5 separate regions of the Homo sapiens genome follow, and regions 2, 3, 4 and 5 are each reported to be linked to region 1. Evidence: microRNA targets listed by miRTarBase, many of them from high-throughput screens and not tested one by one. Region 1 holds a microRNA gene; each other region holds the end of a gene's coding sequence. Distances are from middle to middle.

Region 1 (6,036 bases):
GCCGGGCGGGGTGGCAGCTGCCCGGCCTGCCCGGCCCTAGCTCTCTTCCAGGTGGAGGCTGATGAACTCCTGGATACACCTGCGGAACTGGAGCTCCGTGGGGCTGCCCGCCAGGGCGCCCGGGGGACCAGGGGCAGCCTCGGCCTCGCGCATTTCCTCCGCCATGCGCGCCAGACGGAGCCTACGGGGAGGCACAGCGTGAGACGCCCCTGCCCTGGAGGCCCCGCCCCTGCCCTGGAGGCCCCGCCCCTGCCCTGGAGGCCCCGCCCAGCCCCGAGGGCCCGGCCGCGCTCACAGTGTCACGATGTCAGCGTTGGCCGCCTGCACTGCGATGGCCAACGGGTCCCGCTGCTCTTGGTCCAGGGCGTGCTGGTCCGCGCCCCGCTTCAGGAACAGGCAAACCTGGCTGAGGGGCGAGGTCGGAGGGGCGTGTCGGGGCGGGGCGGGGCGGGGCGAGTGTGGTCGCGGGGGCGTGGCCGGATAGGGCATGGCGGACAGGGCGTAGCCGGGCCGGGGTAGGCGTGGTCGGGGCACAGGGCGGGGCGTGGGTTGCGCGTCTCACCCGGTGCGGCCCAGCAGCGTGGCGTGGTGCAGGGGCGCCCGGCCCCGGCTGTCTCTTTGGTTCACGTCCGCTCCGTTTTGCAGCAGGAACTCACAGACGATCAAGGAGCCCTGGGGAGCCGGGGCAACTCAGACGGAGCCACGGCACCGGCCCCTCTCCGCGCCTCTGCACCCTGACCCCGGCCTTGGGCGCCCCCAGCCGGGACCGAACGTGGTCCCCACCGCGGACAGGCGACCCTTGTGTGGGCGCCACAGAAGATGCAAACGCGACTGTGCACCTGTGTCCTGCGCGCAGCCCCCGTGGCTCGCTCACCCCTAGCACGGCCTGCACCAGCGGCGTCTTGCCCTCATCCTCCGCGTCCGCCCAGTTGACCTCGGCCCCGTGGGCCAGCGCCGCCGCCAGCGCAGGAAGGTCGCGGGCACGCGCTGCGCGGTGCGCCAAGAGCCCCGGGTGCAGCTCGCGCACGTCCGCCAGGCCCCAGGCCTCGGCCTCAGTGTCCCCGTCTGCCTCACCGCTGGACTCCTCCGACTCTGCACCCTCTGTGGGGAGGGGGCGGTCAGGGAAAGCAACCCCCGGGGCTGCCCAGGGGCTGGGCAGGGGCCTCGGGCGAGGGCAAGACGCCACCCACCCTCCTCAGTGACGCTGTCCACCACAGAGCCCGAGCCGAAAGCCAGGACGTCCGAGCTGCCATCCGAGCTGCCCCCAAGGCCACTGTCGCTACTCAGACCTGCAGGTCCGCAGGGAAGGGGGTCCTGAGGGTGGGAGGCCCAGACTCCGTCCAGAGCCCTGGGGCAAGGCTGGAACTCCACCCACCCTCCAGGGGCCACCCCTAGGGACAGGACCAGCTCCCACCCAGGGCCGGGGGGAGCCAGCTGCAGGCTAGGAGCAAAGGAGAGAAAACCAAATAACAGCTCAAAGGTGCCAGGGGTAGCCCCCTAAAGCCCAGGCCTTTTGGGAAGCCCTTCCCTCCCGCTCGCCGCCTTACCCGGCACCCCCCGCAGTGGGCCCCCCAGCCCCGTCTGTGGCTGGCCCAGGCTGAAATGTCTCCACCCAACCAACGGGCAGCATGGCTCCAGAAGGGCCCTAGGCTGAGGGCCGGCTGGCAGCGCCCTCTGCTTCCCCAGCACCCCGGGCCACCCGCTGTGTGCACACACCCAGGTGCACACAGCCCACACACACATTTGCACAGCTCACCCCTGACAGTCAGGGCCTTGGCCTCCAGCTGTGTGGCCAGGAGGCCCCCCGCCCCTTCAGATGCTGCTCCATTCCCTGGCAAGGGCCATCCACACTCAGGCACCCTTCAGGCCAGCCTCCTTGGCCCTGCCCTGCCACCTGGCTGGGCCCACCCCACACTTACTGCGAGGGCCAGCCCCTGCGGCCCCTGCGTCGAAGTAGGAGAAGAGCGAGTCCAGCTCGTCGGGACAGAAGAGGGAGTCTCGGCGGAACTTACGATCCAGGGTGCCCACTGCAGGGGCAGTGCGTGTTCAGAGTGTGGAACAGGCCCGGGGTGGGGCAGGGAACCCCAGGTCACGCCGGGAGTCTGCGGAGCCTGAGGTGCCCCCAGAGCCCTGCCACCAGCCCCTTGACGGAGTCCATCCCCGACCAAGGCAAGCCCCTCCCAGCCCTGCCGGGGCATGGCCTCCCACCTGAGGACAGAGCGGCCACACAGGGCAGAACGGGCTCAAGCCGGACCTTGCGGCGGGCAGTGGGAGCGCGGGGAGAGCTGTGGGGCCGCAGGCACTTCTGCACCCTCCAGCGTCTTGGGGCCTCCAGGGCTGGTGCCATGGGCGCCTTCCGCAGAAACTTCTTTTCCACGTATTTGTCCTTGATCCAGGCCTCCTTGTCCTGCCTGGACCAGGGGGGAACATGAGGCTGTGCCCCCAGGCTGGGGCTCCCTGACTGATCCAGACTGTACCCCACCTCACCGGGAGCTGCTGGCTGTGGGTTTCCTGCTGCCTGCACCCTCACACTGGGCCTCATAGATCTGATTCACAGCGCTGTTTCCAAGCTCACACATCAGCTAGCGGGAGACAGGGCGAGCAGGCATCAGTGCGAACCTGCAGACCCCAGCTCCCGCCCCCACAAACGGGGTCCCGTGGCCTCCAGGAGCCCCACACGCACCTTTAGCAGCTCAGGCTCCCACGAGTCCAGCGTCAGGGACCGCACCTTGGAGCAGTGGACACCCAGGCTCCTGGAGAGCAGAGGTAGGGATGAGTCTGGGGGAGGCAAGGCCCCCAGCTCCGGCCCAACCCCCACCCCCGGCCTGGCCCTCAGGGGCCCACCTGTGGATGCTCCAGCCCAACCCCCACCCCCAGCCTGGCCCTCAGGGGCCCACCTGTGGATGCCGGAGCACTCAATGCAGAGCAGCACGCCCAGGTTGATGCTGGCCCAGCGGGGGTCCGGCTGGCCGCAGTCGCCGCACTGGCTGTTGCCGGCCACACTCTGCACACGCTGCAGCACACTCTCGCCCTTCACGCCACGCTCCCGAGTGTCGGTGGCGGAGTCGATGCTGCTCGTGGACGGGGATGCTGTGCGGTCCAGCCTCTGGAGGATGGGGTGGAGCTGCTCGGTCCCGCAGGGGCTCCAGCATGGTTTCCCCAGCAGGCCCCCTCCTCCCCAGCCAGAAGAGCCAATGCAGGCCAGGGCCCCTCGAGCACACGCCCGCACACGCACGTACACGCGCACACCCTCACGTGGGCAGATGGCCCCCCCCTCGAGCACACGCCCGCACACGCACACACGCGCACACCCTCACGTGGACAGGTGGCGCCGAGCACACGCCCGCACACGCACGTACGTGTGCACACCCTCACGTGGGCAGATGGTGCCGAGCACACTCCCACACGCGCGTGTATACGTGCACACCCTCACATGGGCAGATGGTACCTGCACACACATGCACATCCACACTGCACAAGCCAGCATGCCAGTGCACACCAGCACACACCCAGCTTGCAGGAGCCACACACAGGCGTGTGCACGTGTGTGGGGCAGGGGCCATCCCCAGTGGCACGTAGGTGTGTGCACCGGCACGGGGCAGGGGCCATCCCCAGTGGCACGTGTGTGTGTGCACAGGCGCGGGGCAGGGGCCATCCCCAGTGGCACGTGTGTGTGTGCACAGGCGCGGGGCAGGGGCCATCCCCGGTGGCACATGTGTGCACGGGCTTGGGGCAGGGGCCATCCCCGGTGGCACGTGTGTGTGTGCACAGGCGCGGGGCAGGGGCCATCCCCGGTGGCACGTGTGTGTGTGCACGGGCTTGGGGCAGGGGCCATCCCCGGTGGCACGTGTGTGTGTGCACAGGCACGGGGCAGGGGCCATCCCCAGTGGCACGTGTGTGTGTGCACAGGCGCGGGGCAGGGGCCATCCCCGGTGGCACATGTGTGCACGGGCTTGGGGCAGGGGCCATCCCCGGTGGCACGTGTGTGTGTGCACAGGCGCGGGGCAGGGGCCATCCCCGGTGGCACGTGTGTGTGTGCACGGGCTTGGGGCAGGGGCCATCCCCGGTGGCACGTGTGTGTGTGCACAGGCACGGGGCAGGGGCCATCCCCAGTGGCACGTGTGTGTGTGCACAGGCGCGGGGCAGGGGCCATCCCCGGTGGCACGTGTGCACGGGCACGGGGCAGGGGCCATCCCCGGTGGCACGTGTGTGTGTGCACAGGCGCGGGGCAGGGGCCATCCCCGGTGGCACGTGTGTGTGCACGGGCTTGGGGCAGGGGCACCAAGGGCCACACCTCGCTATAGCAACTGTCAGGGCTCTCGCGGTAGGCGGAGGCGATGCTGGCCTGCACAGCCTGGACCCAGGCTTGCCGCAGCTTCTCGGAGTCAGCCTGCAGCATGCAGCTCCTGCAGGCAGTGGAGGGGCGGGCGTCAGCTCCGGTGGGCAGGTACGCCCCCCGCCCCACCCTGGGCTGGGCCTCCTCACTTGGTGGGTGACAGCACCTCGAAGCAGAACCTCCGCTCGATGTCCTCACACGGCTTCACAGAGCACAGGCGGAGGTCATCCACCACCACGGTGAGGGCATCCTGTGGGCGGCACCGCTGTGGCCCCTGCCCTCAGCCACCACCCGGCCCCGACCACCCACTTCCTGCTTCACCTTGGAGACCCGGAGGCCGACTGCCTGAGCCCCAAGCCCCGTGTCCAGCTCTCTGCTCCCTGACTGTTCCGGCTCCGGCGTCCACTAGTGCCCCGGCCCTGTGCTAACCCCAACTGACCAGTCTGCCCTGTGGCCCAGGTGGGGCGTCCAGCCATCAGGGCCCCAGCCCCAGGCCCAGGGCACACCTTGAGCTTCTTCTGGTAGACCAGCTGGCTGTTCTGAATGGAGAACCAGCGCCTAGGTGGGTGGGGGGATGTGGGGAGTCAGGCGGGGCCCATCCCAGGGCTGCTGTGACCCCTGCCCCCACCTGAGGACCCCACCCCCGCCTGAGGACCCCACCCCCGCCTAAGGACCCCGCCCCCACCTGAGGAAGGCCTCTCACCGGTTCCATGTCTTGAAAGCGTTGCTGGCCCTCTTGAAGAGGTAGCCCTCCATCACCACCCCACTGGGCGCGTCCACGTCAAACTCCACTTTGGACTCATCGTAGGAGAAGTCCTGGGGGGATGGAACCCGCCCCCTCAGTGCCCACCCCAGGGGCCCTGCTACCCTCCGTGCTTTCCCGGAGCACAGGTGGGGGTGAGGTCCTTGTCTGAGGCTGCCACACGGCCCACGGACCACACGCTCAGACGAGAGACCCTCTGTTCACCACAGCCACTTCTTGACCTGAGCAAGGCCCCCAGCCCTGCAACCCGTGGGGCAGACCCCTCACGTTCACAGCTGGGGGCCCGAGAGTGCCGGCCCCACCCCAGCCCTGCAGGGACCAGCAGGCTGCGATCAGGAAGGAAGCTGCGCCCCCACCCTCCGCATCCTGAGTGCCCCATTCATGTGGCCAGCTGGGCGGACAGAGCCCCATTCAGGAGGCCTGGGAGTCACTGAGGGCCCTGTGTGTCCCGCCATCTGGCAGGCCAGGGAAGCAGAGGGGAGGGGCGGCCACCTGCTCCCCAGGCCACATGGGATGGGAAGGGACAGCTGCCGCCAACCCCACGGGGAATGTGGAGGTCTGGCCGGAGCCAGCCCCTCACAGCCGCATCAGCAGCAGGAGCCGAGACTGGTGGGAGGTGTCCTTGGTGCTGAAGTGCCCTTGGGGTAGAGGAGGGAAAGGCACCGCCCCATCTGGTCTCCCCCGACCCACAGCCCGCCCAGGGCCCGTGCTCACTTACCTGCAGCAGCGTCTGGAGGGCCGGAGCAGGAGGGGGTAGGGGGAGAAAGCCAGTGAGTGACGGCTGCCAACTCCTGGTGACTGGTGGACCCGTCCCCAACTCCTGGTGACTGGTGGACCCGTCCCCAACTCCTGGGGGGCTCTCCCCTATCCCAAAATAGCCACTCCTGCCTGCAGCCAACCTCTGCCCGGGATGGTGGCCGGGGCTGCTGTCCCACAG
Region 2 (5,432 bases), not on the chromosome of region 1:
TTGAGAGGCCGAGGTGGGAGGATCACTTGAGGCTGGGAGTTCAAGACCAGCCTCCCAAAGTGCTGGGATTTCAGCTGTGAGTCCCCTCGCCTGGCTAAGGGTCTTATTTAACTTTCTTCCTCTTCCTTAGATCCTGCCTCTGCGCCAGATCCCCTCTGCCTCTGGAGGAGGAGGAAGAATTTCTAACCCGGGCCCTCCATGCTTGCCTGTCTTCCCCACGATGTGATTTTACTACCTCTAGAGATTTGGGTGCATGCTTCTTCCTACTCCTGCTCCTCAGCCTGAAATTTTTTTCTCTTTTGCCATTTCAAATCCTTTACATCTTTTTTTTTTTTTTTTTTTTTTGAGACGGAGTCTCGCTCTGTCGCCCAGGCTGGAGTGCAGTGGCGCAATCTCCGCTCACTGCAAGCTCCGCCTCCCGGGTTCACGCCATTCTCCTGCCTCAGCCTCCCAAGTAGCTGGGACTACAGGCGCCCGCCACCACGCCTGGAGAATTTTTTGTATTTTTAGTGGAGACAAGGTTTCACCGTTTTAGCCAGGATGGTCTTGATCTCCTGACCTCATGATCCACCCGCCTCGGCCTCCCAAAGTGCTGGGATTATAGGCGTGAGCCACCGCACCCGGCCAAATCCTTTACATCTTTAAGGCCTCCTTCTTCCCCAGGATCTGAATCCTCTCCAGCTGCACTGAACCTCTCCCCATCATTTATTTATTTATTTCGAGACAGAGTCTCGCTGTGTGCCCAGGCTGGAGTGCAGTGGCGCGATCTCGGCTCACTGCAACCTCTGCCTCCCGGGTTCCAGTGATTCTCATGCCTCAGCCTCCCGAGTAGCTGGGATTACAGGTGTGAACCACCACACCCGGCTAATTTTTTTTTTCTTTTTCTTTTTTTGAGATGGAGTTTCGCTCTCTTTGCCCAGGCTGGAGTGCAATGGTGCAATCTTGGCTCACTGCAACCTCTGCCTCCCGGGTTCAAGTGATTCTCCTGCCTCAGCCTCCCGAGTAGCTGGGATCACAGGCATGTGCCACTACACCTGGCTAATTTTTTCATTTTTAGTAGAGATGGGCTTTCTTCTCCATGTTGGTCAGGCTGGTCTCGAACTCCCGACGTCAGGTGATCCGCCCGCCTCAGCCTCCCAAAGTGTTGGGATTACAGGCGTGAGCCACCACGCCCGCCCATTTTTTTGTATTTTTCGTAGAGACGATGTTTCGCCATGTTGGCCAGCCTGGTTTTGAACTCCTGACCTCAAGTGATCTGCCCGCCTCAGCCTCCCAAAGTGCTGGGATTATAGGCATGAGCCCTCTCCCCATTTTTCAAATAACTCCATGCCTTTGCACACGTTGTTCCTCTGCTTGGAATGCTTTTCCTCCTCTTGCAAACATTGAGATCTACCGTGAGTCAGTTACTTCTTCCCCTGGGCTCCAAGCTCCTTTGGCTGAGACACCCAGCAGCATAGACAGAGAACTAACGTATCATAACTTCTTTTTTTTTTGTCTCCTTCAGCATAGTATGAGCTCCTGGAGGGCAGGGACCCTGTTGATCTACTGTTCAGTTATCCTCTGGAGCCCCAGGGCCTGACAGCTTATGAGCTCTCATCCCTCTGTCCTCACTGACCATCAGCGCATTTCATCTTTTGTTGTTGGAAACAGTCTCAACTTCATCGCCCAAAATGGAGTGCAGTGGCGCAATCACCTCTCACTGCAGCTTCAACCTCCCAGACTCAAGCGATTCTCCCACCTCAGCCTCCCGAGAATTGGGACCATAGGAGCGCGCCACCAAGCCCAGCTAATGTTTATTTATTTATTTATTTATTTATCTATTTATTTATTTATTTATGAGACGGAGTCTCGCTCTGTCGCCAGGCTGGAGTACAGTGGCGCAATCTCGGCTCACTGCAACCTCCTCCTCCTGGGTTCAACTGATTCTCCTGCCCCAGCCTCCTGAGTAGCTGGGACTACAGGCACGCGCCACCACGCCCAGCTAATTTTCGTATTTTTAGTAGAGACGGGGTTTCACCATGTTGGCCAGGATGCTCTCGATCTCTTGATCTCGTGATCTGCCCGCCTTGGCCTCCCAAAGTTTTGGGATTACAGGCGTGAGCCCGGCCAATTTTTGTATTTTTTGTAGAGATGGGGTTTCTCCATGTTGCCCAGACTGGTCTTGAACTCCTGGGCTCAAGCGATCCGTCCGCCGCGGCCTCCCAAAGTGGTGGTATTAAAGGTGTGAGCTACAAGGCCGGGCCCCACTGACTGTTCTTTAACTGGTTTTCGAGTCTTCTCTGCATCTAGAGAAGTGGCACAAGATTATGGTCAAGAACATAGGCTTCGAGCCCAGTCATACCTGGGTTTGAAACCCTGCCACTTACCAAACTAACCATGTGACCTCAGGCGAGTGACTCATTTAAGCTTCCCAGTCTGTCAATGCCGGGTGATCCCCCACTTAGACAGTCATCGGAGCATTAGAGAATTCCAGTTCCCCATTCCCATCATGCTTCCTCCTTTCTCAGAGATTTCAAATAGACTCTTCTGCCTGTAACGCTTTGCTTCTCTCTCTCATTTACGGAATTACCTGTTCTGATCTCGGCTCACTGCAGATTGGGGGAGAACCTCAGGTGGCCGCTCTCACAGTTATTTTTCTCTCAGAGCACTTATCAAGTTGGTTATTAAACTTACGTGTGATCACTGCATCAATGAGCGCCCCAGCCCCGGACTGTGGCCTCCCTGAGGGGTACCCCTGGTCCCTAACGGTTGTTCAAGAAACAAGGGGACGAAGCGTAGGCAACCAGCGGCCCTTGAATACTTGGAAGGCGTCCTGCCTGCTCTGGTCCCCCTGGGGCACGTGGGGAGCTGGGACAGGGCTCGTCCGTGGTCAAGGTCCGCAGGTTTGGGAGTTGGGGTCCTGCGTTCCGCCAGTATCATCCCAAGCTGCAACACGAGCAGCCCCGGGGAGGCTCCCACCGCCCTGCAGGGCCGCGCCCTACGCCGGCCGCCGAACTCCAGCCCACCCGCAGGGAAGCTACTCCGAGAACGCAGGCGGAGACAGTGGCCAATCGGACCCGGCGGGTATTCTCATCCCTCCAATCAACACTACGATCCGCCCGGGCAGCTCGGGAATTTAAGGCTACGGATGGGAAAAAGGTTGTCGGAGGGAGGCAGAAGGGACTGGGTTAAATTAAGCAGGAGGGGCAAGAACACACAGAGGACCCTGCAACCAATGGGAATTCGCAGGCTGGGGTGGTTTCGAAGGAAGGTCGAACAGGCCTGAGGAGGCAGAGCTTTAAGTTGAGATAGCCAATAGAGATGAAGGCACAGTAGATGGCGTGTCCTAAATCCAATCGAAATAGAGCTAGAGGTGAGCGGGGCAGGAATGCGGCAGGTTGGAGGCACCCTACCAATCAGACCAGGTCAGCAGCGGACAGGCGGGACGGCCGGCTAATGGGAAACAAGGACTGCGGAAGGCCAGGGTCGGGAGAAGAGGCAGGAGGCTGGCGCTATCTTTCAGGTAGCCAATCACTGTCCGCTAAGAACAGCGGGCGTGTCAGCAGCCCTTTTAGGGACTCTGAGGGTCTCGGAAGGGGCCTGTGAGGGGTCTTTCAAGGTTGAGGAGGCGGCATCGTCCAAAGAGGGAGAAGTATGGTCCCGAGAACCGGGCGAAGGAAGGCGGTTGTGAATTTGGGATCCTCACCTCGGGCCTTGCGCCGAGTCTCCTGGTCACCGAGGCTGGGTGGCTTCTCCATGGAGCTCAGGATGGAGCCCAGTAGGTCCGCCATCTTGGGAGTGACTGAGAGGGGGCGGTGCGTCTTAAAGGGAAGGGCGGAATGCCTTTAAGGCCGGAAACACGTCGGAGGCGGAAAACCCTGGGCCCGCCTGGCCTGGGCGCAGATCCCAGGCCCGCGGTGCATGGCGGCCTCCAGCTGGCCTAGGCCCCGCCCCGCCCCCGCAGACAGAGGCCGGAGGCTGGCTGGTGCAGCGATGTTTAATGGCAATTCGTATAAACCAAGCCCATGCACAAGTAGAAAGTGCCCGTGGAGCCGGCAGGAGGCCCCCGCCGCGCTAGAGAACCACAAGCCCGGCCGTGCAGCCCTCCCCGCGGCGCCTTAAATAGATTCTTCACTATACTCTGTATGTTACAGTATGTACAAGACCCCTCCCCTCGGGGGACGGGGCGGACTCCGCAACGCGTTCCTATGTACACCACCTCCCCTTCGGCCCTGAGGTCAGTGGCCAGAGTCGGGTGATGGGGTAAGACAGGGCCAGAGAGGGAGGAAACAGACGCAAACATGCGGAGTCGGGTGGGGACACGGTCAGCCCTGAAACACGAGGGGCGTGCGCAGCGAAGGCAGTGGTGGGAACCGAGGCGGATACATTCAGAGACGCGTCGAACAAATAAATAAGGCAAGTCAGGAGGGGGCCGAGTCGGGTGCAGGCAGGAGGAGCTGGGGAGCAGGGGCAGGCAGGGCTCCGGAGGTCACAGCGGAAGATGCAGGTATGTGGGGCGCGGGTTTTCTGGAGCCAGGACCAAAAGAGACGGGGCACGACCAGGAGGGACGAGGAGAGGGGTGTGGGAGCAAGGCGTGGGGAGGAGGGAGGAGGCCTACAGAGGGCTCCAACAAAGGTGAACAGGAAAGCTGCCGACAGGGGCTCCCCCTGCCCCAGAAAGCCCTCTCCCTGTTAAGACTGCACGAGGCGCCCCCAGGGTGGTGAGAAAGGCGGTGGCCAGGTCATGTGGCCAGTCCCGGCTGGGGAAGCCCTTCCAGCTCCTGGTTCTGCTTCAGTTCCCTCATCCTGCAGAGAGAAAGATAGGAGTCAGAGGAGACTGGCGGATCACGACGGGTGGCAACGCAAAAGCCCAGGGGGAGAAGGGATGAGTACCTGTGTCGGCAGCGCCGCAGGAATCTCATGATCTTCCGGGCTGCCTGGTCCTGCTTCTTGGTGAGAAAGGAGCCTCTGGTGAAAGAAACAAAAGATGGACCTCACAGAAGGCATCGCATGCCTTCGGCCCCCCCAGGAACCCTAGGCAGGGAATGGCAGTGAGGCATGATGATCAAGAGGATGAGTAAGGGGGAATGGCGTGGATGCAGTGGGTGGGCACAGAGGGCTGGGGCTGGGCCCTACTTGTTGCGGGCAGGCAGGGTGGCCGAAGTCCGGTGGGGAGGGCCGGGCCTGCGGCGGTAGGAGCGGTAGTGCTGCTGGATGAGCACAGCCGCTCGGCGGCTCTGCTGAAATCGCTTCTGTTCATAGTAGCTTCGGAACTTGCTCTGGATCAGGATGGCCGCCTGGGTCATCTTCTTATAGAGTGCAAACTGCAGGGGTGGGGAGGAGGGACAGGGGCTGAAATAGAGGGACGGAGACCCAAAGCCCTGAGGCTCACCCAAGTTAGGCTGATGCAAGACTCTCTGTAACCCACACACTCAAGGAAAGACTGAATCATC
Region 3 (5,653 bases), 4.9 Mb from region 1:
TTTTTTTTTAACCTGATTTTTTTCCCCAGTGTACTATTAGGGATTTTTTTTTTTCCTTTTTTTTAGATAGGGTCTTACTCTGTCACCAAGGCTGGAGAGCAGTGGGGTGATCATAGCTCACTCTAGCCTCCATCTCCTGGCTCAAACAGTCCTACCTCAGCCTCCCAAATAGCTGGGACTACACGAGTGCCCCACCATGTCCGGCTATGTCAGGGAACATTTCAACCACCTGAAATTTTGAATTAACCTCATCTGAATACAATATGGTGGAAATAATTGACAAAAGTATACTTTTTAGATGGAATGACCAAATTGATTTATCTTTGCTTAGCAAAAAGTGGACAGTTGAATTGAGATCTTCACACTTTGTGGCGATTGCTTTGTTGGTGTGGAGATTGCTTTGTTGGTGTGGAGATTGCTTTGTTGGTGTGGAGATTGCTTTGTTGGTGTGGAGCACTGTCACAGTGCTCCTTTTTTGGAGATGGTGAGTCTGTTGGTTCATGACATTTGGGTCCTGTGAATATGCCAGGGATCCATGCTGAGCGCGGTGGCTCACGCCTGTAATCCCAGCACTTTGGGAGGCCCAGACGGGTGGATGACCTGAGGTCGGGAGTTCCAGACCAGCCTGACCAACATGGAGAAACCCCGTCTCTTACTAAAAATACAAAATTAGCTGGGCGTGGTGGCACATGCCTGTAATCCCAGCTACTCGGGAGGCTGAGGCAGGAGAATTGCTTGAACCCGGGAGACGGAGGTTGAGGTGAGCCGGAGATCGTGCCATTCCAGCCTGGGCAACAAGAGCGAAACTCCGTCTCAAAAAAAAAAAAAATGCCAGGGATCTCTCTGAGCATCTCATGTAATCCTTGCTATGGTCTGAAGAGATGGTTAGTAGCAGGGATCCCCTTTCACTGTGGGAGAAACAGCTTGGGTAGATGAATTGGCTCTGCTGTGGGTTTGTGTGTTGTGAAATTCCCTCTTTATGGCTTGGGAAGATTCGGAATAGCCTCAGGGCCACGGAAGCAAGCCGGTGAGAGAGCTGCCAAGACTGTGGTGCACTTCATCTTTTTTTTTTTTAATTAAAAAAAAAAATGTTGTGTAGAGACAGGGTCTTGCTATGTTGCCTAGGCTGGTCTCGAACTCCTAGATTCAAGGGATCCTCTCACCTTGGCCTCACAAAGTGTTGGGATTACAGGCGTGAGCCACTGTGCCCAGCCCTTAGGTCATCTTTATGTAGTTAGGGTGTTGGGCACAAAAGCCAGTTTTTGCCTTTCCATAAAGAATGAGTGTTTTGGCTGGTCGCAGTGGCTCACAGCTATAATCCCAGCACTTCGGGAGGCTGAGGTGGGCAGACACTTGAGGCCAGGAGTTCGAGACCAGACTGGCCAATATGGCAAAACCCCCATCTCTACTGAAATTACAAAAATTAGCTGGACATGGTGTTATACACCTGTAATCCCAGCTACATGGGAGACTGAGGCATGAGAATTGCTTGAATCCTGGAGGCAGAGGTTGCAGTGAGCCTGGGCCACAGAAGGAGATTCTGTCTAAAAAAATAAATAAAAGAGTTTTTAAATGATCCCTGTTGTGGTGAGTGTTTAGCTCTCACCTGGCTAAAGCAGCAATTGGGCAGGCTGACTGAAAGGCTTTGTGCTCTCTGGGCGTGAGCGCAGTGGCAGGGTGGCATTCTGTCCCTGTGTGTTGGGTGGTGAGCAGGAGCGAGTGTGTGCACACCCCTAAGAAGCAGTCCTCATCATCCAGACAACCTCAAAAGGGGGTTTGACTCCGTGAGGTGATGTGTGCGCAGCGCTTACAGCTCTTTGGAAACCCACTATTTTCTGCATAAAAGGTATTGAGGTTGCGTACTTAACTGTAAATTTCTATCATGTTATCTTTCTCCAGTGGTCACTAAAAACCATGTTATAGGTGTTTGCTGCATTTTCATGGACAACTGGTACATCTACTTATCTACTTATCTGCTCTTGTTTTTTTTTTTTGTTTTTTTTTTTTTGAGATGGAGTCTTGCTCTGTCGCCCAGGCTGGAGTGCAATGGCGCCATCTCGGCTCACTGCAGCCTCTGCCTCCCGGGTTCAAGCGATTCTCTTACCTCAGCCTCCTGACTAGCTGGGACTACAGGCGCCCAGCACGACGTCTGGCTAATTTTTTGTATTTTTAGTAGAGATAGGGTTGCATCGTGTTAGCCAGGATGGTCTCCGTTTCCTGACCTCATGATCCGCCTGCCTCAGCCCTCCAAAATGCTGGGATTACAGGTGTGAGCCAGTGCCCCTGGCCTAGTTTTTTTTCTTTTTTCTTTTTTTGGAGGCAGTCTTGCTCTGTCACCCAGGCTGGAATACAGTGGTACAATCTTAGCTCACTACACCCTCCGCCTCCTGGATTCAAGGGATCCTCATGCCTCAGCCTCCCGAGTAGCTGGGATTACAGGCGTGCACCACCACGCCCAGCTAATTTTTTTATTTTTAGTAGAGATGGGGTTTCACCATGTTGTTCAGGCTGGTCTCGAACTCCTGACCTCAAGTGATCTGCCTGCCTTGGCCTCCCAAAGCGCTGGGATTACAGGCCTGAGCCACCATGCTGAGGCTATTCTAATTGTTACTGCCGATGTCGATGGTACGTGGCTGATAACTCAGAGCCTTGGCTGGGTGTATTTGCCTTACCTTTGCCATTTTTGAGGCTTGGGAAAACACCTTGAATTGTAATGATTTTGAGTGCTGGGTTTTATAAATGTTAAAATGTTTTAGAATGCAAGCACCAACTGTCTAGTGGAGTTCTTGTGTCCTTTCTCTGCAGGTATTTGAAATATCTCACCAAAAAATATTTGAAGAAGAATAATCTACGTGACTGGTTGCGCGTAGTTGCTAACAGCAAAGAGAGTTACGAATTACGTTACTTCCAGATTAACCAGGACGAAGAAGAGGAGGAAGACGAGGATTAAATTTCATTTATCTGGAAAATTTTGTATGAGTTCTTGAATAAAACTTGGGAACCAAAATGGTGGTTTATCCTTGTATCTCTGCAGTGTGGATTGAACAGAAAATTGGAAATCATAGTCAAAGGGCTTCCCTTGGTTCGCCACTCATTTATTTGTAACTTGACTTCTTTTTTTTTCTGCTTAAAAATTTCAATTCTCGTGGTAATACCAGAGTAGAAGGAGAGGGTGACTTTACCGAACTGACAGCCATTGGGGAGGCAGATGCGGGTGTGGAGGTGTGGGCTGAAGGTAGTGACTGTTTGATTTTAAAAAGTGTGACTGTCAGTTGTATCTGTTGCTTTTCTCAATGATTCAGGGATACAAATGGGCTTCTCTCATTCATTAAAAGAAAACGCGACATCTTTCTAAGATTCTCTGTGGGAAAATGACTGTCAATAAAATGCGGGTTTCTGGGCCATTCGTCTTACTTTCATTTTTTGATTACAAATTTCTCTTGACGCACACAATTATGTCTGCTAATCCTCTTCTTCCTAGAGAGAGAAACTGTGCTCCTTCAGTGTTGCTGCCATAAAGGGGTTTGGGGAATCGATTGTAAAAGTCCCAGGTTCTAAATTAACTAAATGTGTACAGAAATGAACGTGTAAGTAATGTTTCTACAGGTCTTTGCAACAAACTGTCACTTTCGTCTCCAGCAGAGGGAGCTGTAGGAATAGTGCTTCCAGATGTGGTCTCCCGTGTGGGGCCCAGCAATGGGGGCCCCTGATGCCAAGAGCTCTGGAGGTTCTTGAAAGAGGGGACACGAAGGAGGAGTGACTGGGAAGCCTCCCATGCCAAGGAGGTGGGAGGTGCCCTGGAAATAGCTGCCTCATGCCACTTAGGCCATGACTGGATTTAATGTCAGTGGTGTGCCACAGTGCAGAGGCTAGACAACTGAAAGGGGCTACCAAGGCTGGGAAAAAAATGCAATTGTTGCTGTGAGTGACTTTGAAAGACTCTGGTGCCTTGTGGTGCCCTTCTGAAATTCAAACAGTAATGCAAAAGTGTCTGCATTAGAATTTACGGTGTCTAAAATTCATGTTTTTAAAAGAGCTTGCCTACAGATGGTTTCCACACTTGAAATTGTGCCCTGCGAGTTGCATAGCTGGAAGTTCAATGCTCAGTCCTACCTTGGCTCCCATTAAACATTTGGTGCTCTGTGGATTGAGTTGAACGTGTTGAGGCTTTGCAATTTCACTTGTGTTAAAGGCTCTGGCATTTTTCCATTTCTATGCAAATTTCTTTGAAGCAGAATTGCTTGCATATTTCTTCTCTGCCGTCACAGAAAGCAGAGTTTCTTTCAAACTTCACTGAGGCATCAGTTGCTCTTTGGCAATGTCCCTTAACCATGATTATTAACTAAGTTTGTGGCTTGAGTTTACAAATTCTACTTGTTGCATTGATGTTCCCATGTAGTAAGTCATTTTTAGTTTGGTTGTGAAAAAACCCTGGGCTGAAGTTGGCATTTCAGTTAAAAGAAAAAAAGAAACTAGTCCCAGATTTGAAAACTTGTAATAAAATTGAAACTCACTGGTTTTCTATGTCTTTTTGAACTCTTGTAATCGAGTTTTGATCATATTTTCTATTAAAGTGGCTAACACCTGGCTACTCTTACTGTACGAGGCTTTGTTTTTTTTAAGGACTGGCATGTGAAGAAAAGCTTTGTCCTCACGAATTAGTTGCTGTACCAACAGTTACGTTGGTCTTTATTAGGCTTAGAAGAAAAGATGTCCTTTATTTCCACTTTTCTTCCCTTAGTTGTGCTGTTTTGCCGCAGTGAGATTCAGGGGTTGGCTGTCACTGAACTCTGTGTAGAATTTCTCCAGATCCAGAGTCTGGGGATCAACTTTGCCAGCAAATGCCGTTTTCTGATGGGGAATAGGTAGTGTCAACTTGAATTCCATCACAACCATGACACCAGCTGCGCCCAAAGCACACTGTAGACCAGTTTCCTTTGTTTTGACTCACACCTCACTTGCCTGATCGAAAATAGTTGAGGCACAGGGGCTGACTGGGGTCGTGGAGAGTTTCAAGCCGTGATTTAAGTTCATAAGAGTCCGGAAACAGGAGGTTGGTCTCGTCTCAGCCAATGCCAGTTACACAACACCTTCACGCCCTTCCCTCGAGTGTGCTGGTACAGCTGAGGAAATGAGGTTTGTTGATGTCACTAAGTGCTACGAACTAGTCACTTCTAAAGGCTTCATGTTTTCCCTCCAAAAAGCCTCTGATCCCCCTTTTCCCATGGCACTTCCAGTGGTGAAGTGTTTGGGTTTTGAGGACTGTTGTCCTCATACATTTTCAGGAGCAGCCAGGTGTTGAAATACGTGGGTCCTAACTTTGCTCATGAATGGTGTGTAGCACAGAGGTGGTCAGAAACACGGGGAAAGTGAGGAAGTTGGATAATACCAAGTGTCTTAAGACAGTTGATATCTGGGGCTATCTAGAGCTCAGCCTTTTTAGGGGACACTTGATTTCCTGGAGGGTGATAAGGACCCTGGTGATGGGGAATAATGGTCCGGCTGTTGAAGTCATTGATGTCAGGGGAGCCTGGAATTTGGTGTTGACACCTGATTTCACTTTCCATTTGTACATGGGACTCAGACCCTTAAACTTGTCAAGTATTGTAAACCAAGACCTCCCACAGGAGAGGGGGACCTAGGATGTGGGACA
Region 4 (4,753 bases), not on the chromosome of region 1:
GCGGAGGTTGCAGTGAGCCGAGATTGCGCCACTGCACTGCAGCATGGCTGACAGAGCGAGACTCATTCTCAAAAAAAAATAAATAGGTCAGGCTTGGTGGCTCAGCACTTTGGGAGGCCAAGATGGGCGGATCATTTGAGGTCAGGAGTTCGAGACCAATCTGACCAATATGGTGAAACTCCATCTCTATTAAAAATACAAAAAAAGGCCGGGCGCAGTGGCTCACGCCTGTAATCCTGTAATCCCAGCACTTTGGGAGGCCGAGGCGGGCAGATCACGAGGTCAGGAGATTGAGACCGTCCTGGCTAACATGGTGAAACCCCGTCTGTACTAAAAATACAAAAAAAATTAGCTGGGCGTGGTGGCGAGCGACTGTAGTCCCAGCTACTCAGGAGGCTGAGGCAGGAGAAAGGCGTGAACCCGGGAGGCGGAGCTTGCAGTGAGCCGAGGTCACACCACTGCACTCCAGCCTGGGCGAGGGAGCGAGACTCCGTCTCAAAAAAAAAAAAAAAAAAAAAAAAAACTAGCCAGGTGTAGTGGTGCACACCTGTAGTCCCAGTTACTTGGGAGGCTGAGGCAGGAGAATCGCTTGAACTCGGGAGGCGGAGGTTGCAGTGAGCCGAGATCGTACCACTGCATTCTAGCCTGGGTGACAGGGAGACTCCATCTCAAAAAATAAAAATTTAAAAAACACCAATAATAATAATAATTAATAAACTTAATAAATAAATAAATAAAAGACAGGAAATGACGGTGAGAACCGGTGTGAGGGACTAGCTAGTGGCCAGTGCTAACAAGGAGGTGCTTGTGACCTGCTATGGACCTGGAAGCGACTAGGGCTGAGTACAAAGGGGGCAAAGGAATTTGGGGGTGATGGAAATGTTCTGTATCTTGACTGTGGTGGTGGTTATATGAGAGTTGGCATAACTTTAAAACACCAGAAAGGGTGAACTTTACTGTACAAGTGGTTCACAACTGCAATCCCAGCACTTGTGGGAGGCTGGGGCTGGAGAATTGCTTGAGCCAAGTTCGAGACCAGCCTGGGCAACATAGGGAGACTGTCTCTAAAAAAAATCAATCCCAATGATGGCATTCCCCGCCTCAGGGAATGCCAGCCCCCACTTCTTCTGTCACCTCTCCCCCATGGGCCCCGTTAACGGATACAGGGAGGAAGGCATTTCCTGCCTAGATGTCTCCGCCCCCACTGCCATGGAGACCAGCTTGGAAGCTTAGGGGAGCTGCTGTGGCCCAGGGCTCAGTGGGGAGGAAGAGGAGGCCAGGAGTCTTGGACTAGCTGCAGGGTTTGAGCTAGGCTGAAGCAGCAGAACCACAGAGGTGGCTGAGCAGGGGCCTGGCCCTGGGACCCAGCCATCCACACTCACACATCCACTTCTCCCTCCAGAGCCCGGCCCTGAAGCAGGTCTCTGCTCCACGCTTTTCCTTAGTTGGGGAATCGAGAGTTGGGGGATCAAAGCCCCCCACATCTCCCTCACCCGCTGCAGCTATGTTTATCAAGGTGATGTTTGGGGGTAAGTGGGGTCCCCTGTCTTGGTAGGCGGATAGGGGGATGAGCACACTCAGAGGCGTGCTTCCTTCCGCCCTTGCGGTGGGTGGGGAGGCAATGGCGGGAAAGGGGGGTGGTGCACATGGCGGGGGTCGTCGGGGAAGCGGCTCTGTGAGGAGGCGAAGCCAGCACCTGGAGCGAGTCCCTTAAAGGGAAAACCCGAGCTGAGTCCTGCTCATTCACAAGGGTTCCTCTCGGCCAGAGACCGCCGCATTACCCTGGAGCAGGTTTTTAAGCCGCACAATCTCTTCGCCATTCAATCCGTGATCCTCAAGCTTCAGCGTGCATCAGACACCTGAAACTCTAGCCACAGTTGCAGGGTCCCCGTGCCTCTGGCTGGAGGCGGGTCGGCCCTGTGCGGTAGCGGAAGGGAAGAGAGGAGCCGGTGGGTGCGGAGGGCGGGGACTGGCTGGGTCCCGTGGGGGCGGGTCCCGGGAGGAGGCTGGGCTGGCGCCCACTTCGTGCTTTGCAGGACTCAAGAGACCAACACTTGGGAGTCACCACACATGGGAGAAAAGTCACCACACATGGGAGATGGATGGAGGGTTCTCCAAGGCAGTTTAAGCAACAGATGTTGGAGCTGTTATGCCCGGGGCACAGTCTTAGCCCATAGGCCCAGTCGCAGCTCTGGGAAAGGGAGAGATGGGAGGGAGAGACAGAGGACCCCGATTTGGAGGAAGGTAAGAGATCTCACAGGCTCACCTTTGCCCCTCTCCACAGCTGGCTGCTCGGTGCTGGTGAACACCTCTTGCAGGCTGGTGAACCTCACCGCCCACCTGAGGCAGAAAGCAGGGTTGCCCCCAGATGGTGAGGAGACAGGGAGGAGAAGGAGGGGCTGAGGGGTCCCAGGCAGGGGTGCCAGCCCTGCCCAGTCTCTCTCCATGTCCTCCCAGCGACCATTGCTCTCCTGGCTGAGGATGGCAACCTAGTGAGCCTGGAGGAGGACCTGAAGGAAGGGGCTTCCCGGGCCCAGACCATGGGCAACTCCCTACTGAAGGAGCGAGCCATATATGTCCTCGTTCGGATCATCAGTAAGGTGGCCCAAGGTTCTCTCCCCTGCAGCTATGGTAGAATGTAAGAGGGGGGCATAGCAGACCATAGACCACCCAAGGCCCTGTCCGGCCTCCCACCTCGGCTGGGGACCTAGCCCCAATCCATCCCTACCCAATGCTCTGCTCCCAGCCTGGACTAGCAAACAGTTCCAGAGTGAGAGGCAGAGTAGGGACCATTAGGCCAGTCAGGTGTCCTTCATCGTCTCTCCACATGTCACAGAGGGAGAGGACATGGCCTCCACCCGCTATGAGTCCCTATTGGAGAACCTGGATGACCATTACCCAGAGCTGGCAGGTGAGTGTCAGGGTACAGCCCAGGGGGAGGGCACACCTTCTCCCTAACCCCTACCAACAGGACTTCCTGGGCCTTCCAGAGGAACTGCGCAGGCTGTCAGGCCTCTCCTCTGTGGGCCACAACTGGAGGAAGCGTATGGGCACTCGGCGAGGCCGCCATGAGCAAAGCCCCACTTCAAGGCCCAGAAAGGTGAGCTCCCTGCCACCCAGGAGTTGCTAGCTGGGGCAGGGAGCCAGGTACAGAGCAGATTTGGACATCCACAGAGACACCCAGAGTGGGATCCCTTCCTGCAGGACAGACACATATGATGAGGGGCAGACCCTCAACACCAACTCCACGCACATATACCCCCAGATGGAACACACTGTACCCTGAGACAGGTCCCCACCACCCCACGGGAGTGCCAGCGCACTAAGGGCCGGAATGTCCTCAGGCTTCACAGATGTGGCATAGGGGCTGGCACACAGTAGGAGCTCAGTGCACAACTGCTGGATGAACTCAATGAAGGCGGCAGCATGGTGTGTGATGGCACGGCCCACACTGGGTTTGAAGGGCTTGTTCTTCCATTCTGGCAGGCTTGGGGACCTGGCACACTACTGCCAACTAGCCAAGTTGGACTCAGACCCAAGGGGGTTAGCCATGACCTCTGCCTTGTGTGATCAGGTGCAAACAGACAACAACCCAGCAGGACTCCTCTTGCAGAATCTGGAATTGCTGAGAAGTTGCATCAGCAAGAGGGGCAAGGTCAGACAGGATTTGAGGCCGCCAGGGGCACCTAAGCTGTGGGTGCAGAGAATGGGATGCAGAGGTAGAGACAAGAAGGGTAGAGGTGGCAGGTATCCCTGATAAGGGGGAGACCATGGGTTCATCCTGGGATTCCACCCTCAGAGTCAGATGCCCTTGGGATCACCGACTAATGCCTCTCCACCTCACTCTGGACTGCCCAAGGAATCTGTCCTGTGCTACCCACAGTGCAGATTGCAACAGGGCTCCTCCTCCCCACCCAGGGCCCTGATTAAGGGGATGGATTGCACACTGTAGTGAGACATCCATCCTGACCCCACCTCATCAGCCAGGGAGCTCCCTGAAGACAGGCCATCGAGAGAGGCACACAACAGGCTGTGGTCTAAAATAAACTTTTAATTGCACATTTGTGTCTTGGGTTATCTGTGGGGTGAGAAACCTCCTCACTTCCAATCCCAGCTATCTGGGTACAATCTGGTGTTGTGGTCTGGCTGTCGGCGAGGGGTAGAGGTGGGTGCAGGACTGGCCCCCGAGTCTGCACCGACCTCTTCAGGGCAGGGAGCTCAGACCTGGGAAGGGAGGGGCAGCACAGGCTGGTGGTCAGCCTGCAGGTGCAAGAGGAGGGTTGGCCTCTCCCCCTCCCCGCCTGAGTCGGGGTCCACTCACTCACCATGGTAGTACTTGCACTGCTTCAGGGCCTCGCTGAAGCCCTCACACAGGGACAGGTCACTCTGAGTGGTGGAACAGTCCAGGAACTGCCTGATCTCGTAGGCGCAGGGCCCCATCTGCAGGGGCTGGGGGGCAGCGGGGGTGGGGGCCTGGGGGTACAGTGCAAGAGGCTGCAGGATCAGCTTGGAGTTGGCACCTGGAGGTGCGTTTCAAACCTGGGGCCACCTGCCCCTCCCCACATCCCCAGCCTGGGTGTCCCAAGGGTCCTAGGCAGGCTGAGTGATCCAGCAGCAGAGGCGGCTACAGACAGCATGTTTCTGCTGCCTTTTTTTTTTTTTTTTTTTGAGACAGAGTCTCACTCTGTCACCTAGAGTGGAGTGCAGCGGCGCAGTCTCGGCTCACTGCAACCTCCGCCTCCCGGGTTCAAGT
Region 5 (6,036 bases), not on the chromosome of region 1:
CAATGTGTTCTTACCAACATGCTGCTGTGGCTTCAAACCTGATGCTGCACTTCAGAAGACCCTTGAGGACAGAGTTATGAGGCGTCAGGGCCCTGGGGGGCAGGCATCTTTCCAGGGGGGGGCATTGTCTGTGCCCTCCACTCCACTCATGTGCGTGGCCCAGTGTGGCCTGGCTCACTTCTGCCTGGTGGTGTATTTGATTGGCACAAGCACCCAGACACCAACTCTACCCTTTCCCTACCCTCATCTTCTGGGTCCTTGAACACATTCTTGTTTCAGGGATGGAGTGACAGCCTCCCCACATATACATGACCCCTCCCCATTCTCCTGAAGGTGGACCCCAGGCTGCTTCCAGTTCCCACTACCAGGGTTACCTGATAGGCTTGTTGCTGTTGTTGTTTGAGGCAGTGGATTTATTGTGCCTTGCTTAAACCACAGTTATCTGGAGCACGGAGTCAGAACAACCACAGAGAACAAACATGTGCTTTGTCTTTTTATTATTCTTTATTGGTCCTACCAATGTGACTCTTTACCCAGGCCCACTGTTCCTATGCGCACTGGCTTTGTAGGCATTCACATCATATGTCTGTGTCCTGAAAATCTCAATTAATTTCTCCTTCCTATTCCTTTTCCATGCTCTGCCTCATTTTCTCAGAAATTGAAGGCATTTGATTATTATTTTTTTGTTTGGGTCTGTGTAAAGGTTCCTTGGCAGGAGAACATGCATATGACTTTAAAATAAAGACCAACATTCTGACACTAAGGTAATGCACAGAAAAAATACAGTACTCAGACATCATTGCAAATAAATACCCCATACAGATGAAGTTATCTCAAATGTAACAATATTTCTTATGAATCAACACTGTAACGGAAGGTAAAAATAGGAGTCCCTACAACTAGGAATAAGAAATGCTTATTCCAGGAAACAGAATTCTTTTATTTTTGTCATTTATATTATTATAATTTTTCCTTTTTTGGAGAAGGAAGGACAGTTTTTCTTCCTCCAAGAGTACCAATTTGACCACTCCCACTAACCTCACTCAGCAAACAAAACAGGATGTAGACCTGGTTTGCTAAGGAGTTTTAATGAGTTCTGTTTCCTGAAATTAACAGTGATTAGTTACACCAAGCAAGAGAAGATATAATGTCTCGCTTTCACATTTGCAAAGAATACTATGGCTAACCCTCATCCCCTACTGCGCATGCCAACACAGCGTCGGCCCTCCTGATACCCTCAGCTCTTCACAAACGTGGCGTTCATACAGCTTGCTCAGCTTGTCCCAGAAGGTCCATTTGGTTCCCAAAGCACACTCAAGGTTTTGTGTTTGCTTTCATTTTCTAAGCCCCTGAATTTGCAAGTAAAGAATCACTGACTAACAGAATTTTGCACAATGACTGTTTTCTTTCCCTCAATGAAGATGCCCAGGTCTGGGTGTGAGGAGCACCTGCCTCACCTGCTGTCCACGCTGGCCTTCAGCATGCCCACTAGCTCTTCCCTGCTCGCTTTTGAGAATGATCTGTGCTGGGACACCTCCCTTAACTGATGAAGGCACTACTGGCAATGATTACTAACAAAAAGGTGTTGAAAGAGAACACCCTAAAAATCGACGACTGTAGAATTTTCTAAGTGTACCACAATTTGGCACAACAACCAGAGTAACAAAACAATTCCAATTTGGAATTTTATTGGTACAGTTGTATAAAATTCTGTTAATCAGTCATGCTTCACAACGTCCTAAAACCCAGAAAATTCTGGAATTTGTAGGTAATACTACTCATTCAATAATTTATCTTTTTTTTTCAAGTGCCTATTACTGTTTTAACCAGAGCAAAGGTCAAGTTTTCTTCTTGTTACATTGAACTATTCCTAAGAATAATAATAATACAATATGAAAAACCCCAGAATCTGAATACCCTGGATTTCTTAATGAACATGGCATTTAAAATCTGTAATTTCAAACATGAACCACAATGCCGTATGATCTAAAGGCTGCTGAACCACAGCGTGGATACACTTAGCTGAGCTCCTCGCTGGGTCAAAGCACTCATCTCCGAGTCTAAAGCTACACGCTATGGAGCACACAGCTCTGCCTCGTGCTGACACCAGACAAACACGGTGGGAGCTGAGGCGGACAGCTACAGGACCACGAGCATAGACCACGGCACCTGAGACCGTCTCTACGCGAGGAATTAAGGAAGCAAATATAATATCAAAATATCAAAAGTGCACAGGTTGATCGGATAAAAAAAGAACATGTGTAACAAGGAGCCCCCGTGGTGGGCGTTTCCAGTGGGCTCCTGGCGAGCCTGGCAGCCAGGGAAGAAGGGTCTTCGGCCCATACAGAGGCCTTTCCACGCAGCAGCTCGCAGCATGCTCAACATTAAAGCTTTTTTTCCTCCCATTAAAAACCTGGGGAATGCTATTTTGAAAAGAATTGCAGTGGCATATCCAAAAAGTTTCTAAGTGGGCTTTTAGGTTGCCCTTCCTTCCTCCTTGTGGGCCACGAGAGGGAAGGGGAAGGGGCTGCAGTGTGACAGGGCCGGGTGGCCAAGTCCTCCTGGCAGCTACTCTACAGCTGAAAACGGGAGAAAAGAGAGCGTTAGAAAGCGGTCATCTGTCGCTTCCTGTTTATCTGACAATTGAAGCTCTCCACGTGCTGGGAGGGCGCGAGCACGTTAGTTGGCAGAAGAGAAGACCTGCATGTGTTAGCAGGGGTCCCAGTGGCTTGGGTGTCTGCAAAGTCCCTTAGGAGTATGGAGAGAAGCTATGTGCCAGGCTTGCAAGGAGAGGGCAAAGCGCATGCAGGGTGGGCATGCCAGCAGCCATCCCACTGCGAGTCTTGCTGGGGCAGGGGGATCTGGGCCCAGGATGAACACGCAGGGGACATACATGGGCGTGTCCTGGAGTCTGGAGGGGACCGAAACATACTCGGCACCAAAGGGAAGAACGCGCAGGGCAGAGAGCTGTGGGAGGGGGCAACACGGTCTCTCACCAGGTAACTCGAATGCCTCTTCCGCATGAGAGACAAGGCAAGCAGCCTGCAGGAGAGAAGACTGCAGCCTCAGGTCCAGCTGGTCCCACAGGGTGATCGGGAAAAAAGTACTGAGAAAAGTTCTGCTCAGAATGTGGGAAGGCAGGTGTGGATGGAGCCTCTGGAAATGGGAGAACCCTACAGCTACCTTTCCTCTTTCTCTGTTGCCATCCCCCAGATTGCACTAAATAAAGAGACCTAAACATCTCCTACCTGTGAATCCTGACAAGTGGCCCTGGCCCTATGCAAAGCTTTCCCAGCACCGGGCTGGGCTCTGGATACACCTGTGGGTGTCCAACCCAGCCAAGCCCTTGGTGGCTCAGACTTCAGGCTAGGGTTTTCAAAGCCCCATGTCTTTGGGACTGAACCCCCTATGGAAGGCCGGATAATTGGCTGCTGGGGTCACCCCAAGTACAAAAGGACGGGCTCTGCACTAAGGACCAAGGTCTGGCCAGGCACTTGGAAAGCTTTTCTCATGAAAAATGAAAACCTGGGGCCTTGGGCCCTGCCAATCTGTCACCTCACAGGCCACTATACAAGCATCCTGATCTCAGAAATGAGAAACCGAGCTCTGGATTCCTGGGTTATGGTCAGCTGTGTCTGTGCCATGTGTGTCTGGCCAGCAGAATACAGGGGCTCAGGGCTGCTCTTCTCTGGGCTTGGGGAAGAAATTCTGCACTTCTTTCCTGAATATGATTTGCAGTCAGATACTGCATAAACTACAACGTACTCCTTTCCATGAAACTATGCCAAGTGCAAAGCCATCCTCTGAGGTCGTACCTATGCTGCAGGCTGGAACCTCCTAAAACTGCTTTCTAGTGCTGACATTAGACACATGCGAGGAACATGCAAGTCTCAACTCAGGTTCTGCCCCTTTTGGGTGCTGAGGGAGCAGGACCAGGACTCCTCCCTTGGGTTTCCCCACGGGTGCGCAGGGCTTAGAAGATGCTTTCATCACACATCTGCTGCAAGAATGTGCAGCTCTATCCCCACCTCTGACCCCCACCTAAGAGAGCAGCTGAGGACTGGGTGCTCCTGAGGGGGCTTTGAGGAGTGAGAAGCGACACAAAGCTCTCACAAGTGTCCTGCTGATGCAACGCCCCATGGCGCCTCGGCTAGACTCCTACCCTCTGTGCATTAGTCACGTTAAGATTGACCTAGCACCGCCGTCCCGCTGCTGCTGGGTTAGTTGAGGTGAAGCAGATGTTAGCTGCAGCGTGCGGCGCCCCACAGCCCCTAATCACAGTAAATGCTGTGCTTCTCGCTGCAGAACACCTGGTTGGCCAGCCCGGTGCCCTCGGCCCTGTCGCTGGCACAGGCACAGGTGTGACTTACGCTCGGTGTGGCTGGCTTGGTCTTCGGGGCGGCTTTGGCACGGCCACGCCGGGTCTGCTCATGGTCCAGCTCGAGCAGCTCCAGCCGCTGGGTCAGCGCCAGCTTCTGCTGGATGGCCATGCGCAGCAGCGAGTTCAGCGTCTTCTTCTCGTCCTCAGCAGCCGCCAGCTGCCGCTGCATCTCATCCAGCTGTGTAATGTACTCGTCACACCTGTGGGTACCAAAAACATGACTGAGGGGCGGGCAGAGCCGAGCAGAGGAGGGCAGGGCAGGGCAGGGCTAAGCTGCACGGCCCTCTGACAGCCCTATACCAGAGCCATCCTTCAATGTGGCCTCTGGACTGGAGGGTGTGGCTGGGGAAGAATTATTCTGGCTTATTTTAGCACAGGCTTTGCTTGGACAAATCCCTGATAAGGGTGAGAGGGAGGCTTGGGCCCAGGCAGGGCAGCCCTATGAGGCTGGCTTGAGTTTTGTGGTTTTGTGGGGGAGGGGCTGCTTTGCTCTTTCAGCTGCATGTAGTGCTTACAAACAGGCTATGCCCCTCAGCGACTGGGCTTCTTCTAGGAGGCGCTCTCCCCGCTTAAAGGCCTCGAGGTGGCCTGGGGCATCAAGACATGGAGAAGCCATGGCTTCTAGGGTGTGGATGTAAATCTAAGCAGGACTGGGCTTGTTCCCAAGGTCGATGCTTCGTCAGTCTGTGCTGAGCACTGACCAGAGCCAAGGAACCACGTGTGTGGACGCCATCAACAGCTTCATCCTGAAACCCGGGTGCGGAGCTGTGGGAGGGTGTGGTCTGTCCCTGGATGCCCTTCTTCCACATGTCCCATATGGGTGGGGCTTGGTAGAGACAAAGGGCGGGTTAAATCCCAGGGCTCCCAGGGCGGTGAGGCTGTGCAGGCACTGAGCACAGCCCCACCCTGCCCACACGCACCCTACTCTGCCTGTCCCCACCTGCCAGGAGCCGGCCCTTGGATAGCACCCTCTCCAAGGACTCTGCTGCCCACCCTTTTGAGGGCACACAGAGCTGTGATCCCTGCAGATTCAAAATCTTGGCTCCATCTGAAAAGTTTTTAAATAAAACAAATTTTAAAAGGTAGGGTTTACATGCCAGATACTGAGAAACTGTGGGATTTTTTCCCCAAGCCCCAGGAAGACAGGACGCTTCCAGAGAAATCCTGGGACTCTTCCTTGTCTGTACCCTGCTCTGGCACGTCCTGCAGGGATACTGAGAAACTGGGAGTGCACGGCACCAGGCTTGAGAGAAGCAGGCCCTATGTGCATGCAGTTCCCACCCTGTCCAGCTCAGATCCTCAGCTTGCTCACCCATAAAAAGGAAACATCTAGGTTATCTGCTGGGCCCATGGTGGGCCTGGCTGTCCCCCATGCAGGGCTGACCCCATGGTGCTATCCCAACATGACCCAGCAGGTGGCGCTACCCATCTTTGGAAAGTGAAAGACAGCGGTACCTGTCAGGGGGCACCTGGGAAGATGCTGAAACCAGGACCTGCCCCACAGAGGCCTGTGAACACTTAGGGAGCCTCGATTCCCAGCCTTGGGGTCTGAGTCCCAGCCAGGGAGGGGTGTGCACCCACCAGGGGCAGCCCACCTCAGAGCCCATTACTAAGAGCCCTCCACAGAGGAAGAAAGAAAGCTGGTCTCCTCCAAG

What was found. The annotated mature microRNA hsa-miR-6726-5p reads CGGGAGCUGGGGUCUGCAGGU and lies in region 1 at 2,618-2,638, opposite strand. An mRNA with a match to its seed (bases 2 to 7 or 8) in the 3' UTR can be bound and repressed. Matches are read on the target gene's strand: a 7mer-m8 pairs with bases 2 to 8, a 7mer-A1 pairs with bases 2 to 7 and ends in A, and an 8mer does both.
Region 2: miRTarBase lists CAMTA2 as a target of hsa-miR-6726-5p. Seed matches in the 3' UTR shown: 7mer-A1 at 4,563-4,569.
Region 3: the mRNA of RPL22 is a reported target of hsa-miR-6726-5p. Seed matches in the 3' UTR shown: 7mer-A1 at 4,118-4,124.
Region 4: the mRNA of CHCHD10 is a reported target of hsa-miR-6726-5p. The part of its 3' UTR that is shown has no 7-base or 8-base seed match.
Region 5: the mRNA of BICD2 is a reported target of hsa-miR-6726-5p. Seed matches in the 3' UTR shown: 8mer at 2,121-2,128.

Annotation. Positions count from the first base shown.
Region 1 is chr1:1,293,528-1,299,563 of GRCh38, forward strand. It overlaps MIR6726 (microRNA 6726), which reads right to left and starts at 2,643; the gene lies at 2,583-2,643. It overlaps ACAP3 (ArfGAP with coiled-coil, ankyrin repeat and PH domains 3), which reads right to left. Exons shown (of 24, transcript NM_030649.3): 10 at 5,818-5,829; 11 at 5,040-5,152; 12 at 4,843-4,894; 13 at 4,486-4,586; 14 at 4,295-4,406; 15 at 2,898-3,106; 16 at 2,684-2,753; 17 at 2,488-2,582; 18 at 2,209-2,411; 19 at 1,920-2,027; 20 at 1,191-1,289; 21 at 875-1,101; 22 at 563-672; 23 at 296-406; 1 more. The coding sequence ends at 37. RefSeq lists an enhancer at 3,656-4,592.
Region 2 is chr17:4,964,035-4,969,466 of GRCh38, forward strand. It overlaps CAMTA2 (calmodulin binding transcription activator 2), which reads right to left. Exons shown (of 23, transcript NM_015099.4): 21 at 5,116-5,303; 22 at 4,873-4,947; 23 at 3,963-4,785. The coding sequence ends at 4,722. It overlaps SPAG7 (sperm associated antigen 7), which reads right to left and starts at 3,783. Exons shown (of 7, transcript NM_004890.3): 1 at 3,686-3,783. The coding sequence starts at 3,770. It overlaps LOC124900387 (a long non-coding RNA gene), which reads right to left and starts at 3,679. Exons shown (of 2, transcript XR_007065587.1): 1 at 2,367-3,679; 2 at 1,788-2,285. RefSeq lists enhancers at 2,828-3,505, 3,419-3,918, 3,506-4,182, 4,183-4,860, 4,828-5,432 and 2 more and a silencer at 3,929-4,008.
Region 3 is chr1:6,183,969-6,189,621 of GRCh38, reverse strand. It overlaps RPL22 (ribosomal protein L22), which reads left to right. Exons shown (of 4, transcript NM_000983.4): 4 at 2,806-4,602. The coding sequence ends at 2,950. Among named protein-coding and RNA genes, the nearest start is that of CHD5, 6.5 kb to the right of the region's middle.
Region 4 is chr22:23,761,803-23,766,555 of GRCh38, forward strand. It overlaps CHCHD10 (coiled-coil-helix-coiled-coil-helix domain containing 10), which reads right to left. Exons shown (of 4, transcript NM_213720.3): 3 at 4,326-4,473; 4 at 4,032-4,224. The coding sequence ends at 4,205. It overlaps C22orf15 (chromosome 22 open reading frame 15), which reads left to right and starts at 1,188. Exons shown (of 6, transcript NM_182520.3): 1 at 1,188-1,529; 2 at 2,285-2,371; 3 at 2,458-2,595; 4 at 2,837-2,911; 5 at 2,991-3,100; 6 at 3,919-4,061. The coding sequence starts at 1,505. The coding sequence ends at 3,930. RefSeq lists enhancers at 3,708-4,507, 4,508-4,753.
Region 5 is chr9:92,710,883-92,716,918 of GRCh38, forward strand. BICD2 (BICD cargo adaptor 2) reads right to left here. Exons shown (of 7, transcript NM_001003800.2): 7 at 481-4,581. The coding sequence ends at 4,272. Among named protein-coding and RNA genes, the nearest start is that of IPPK, 44 kb to the left of the region's middle.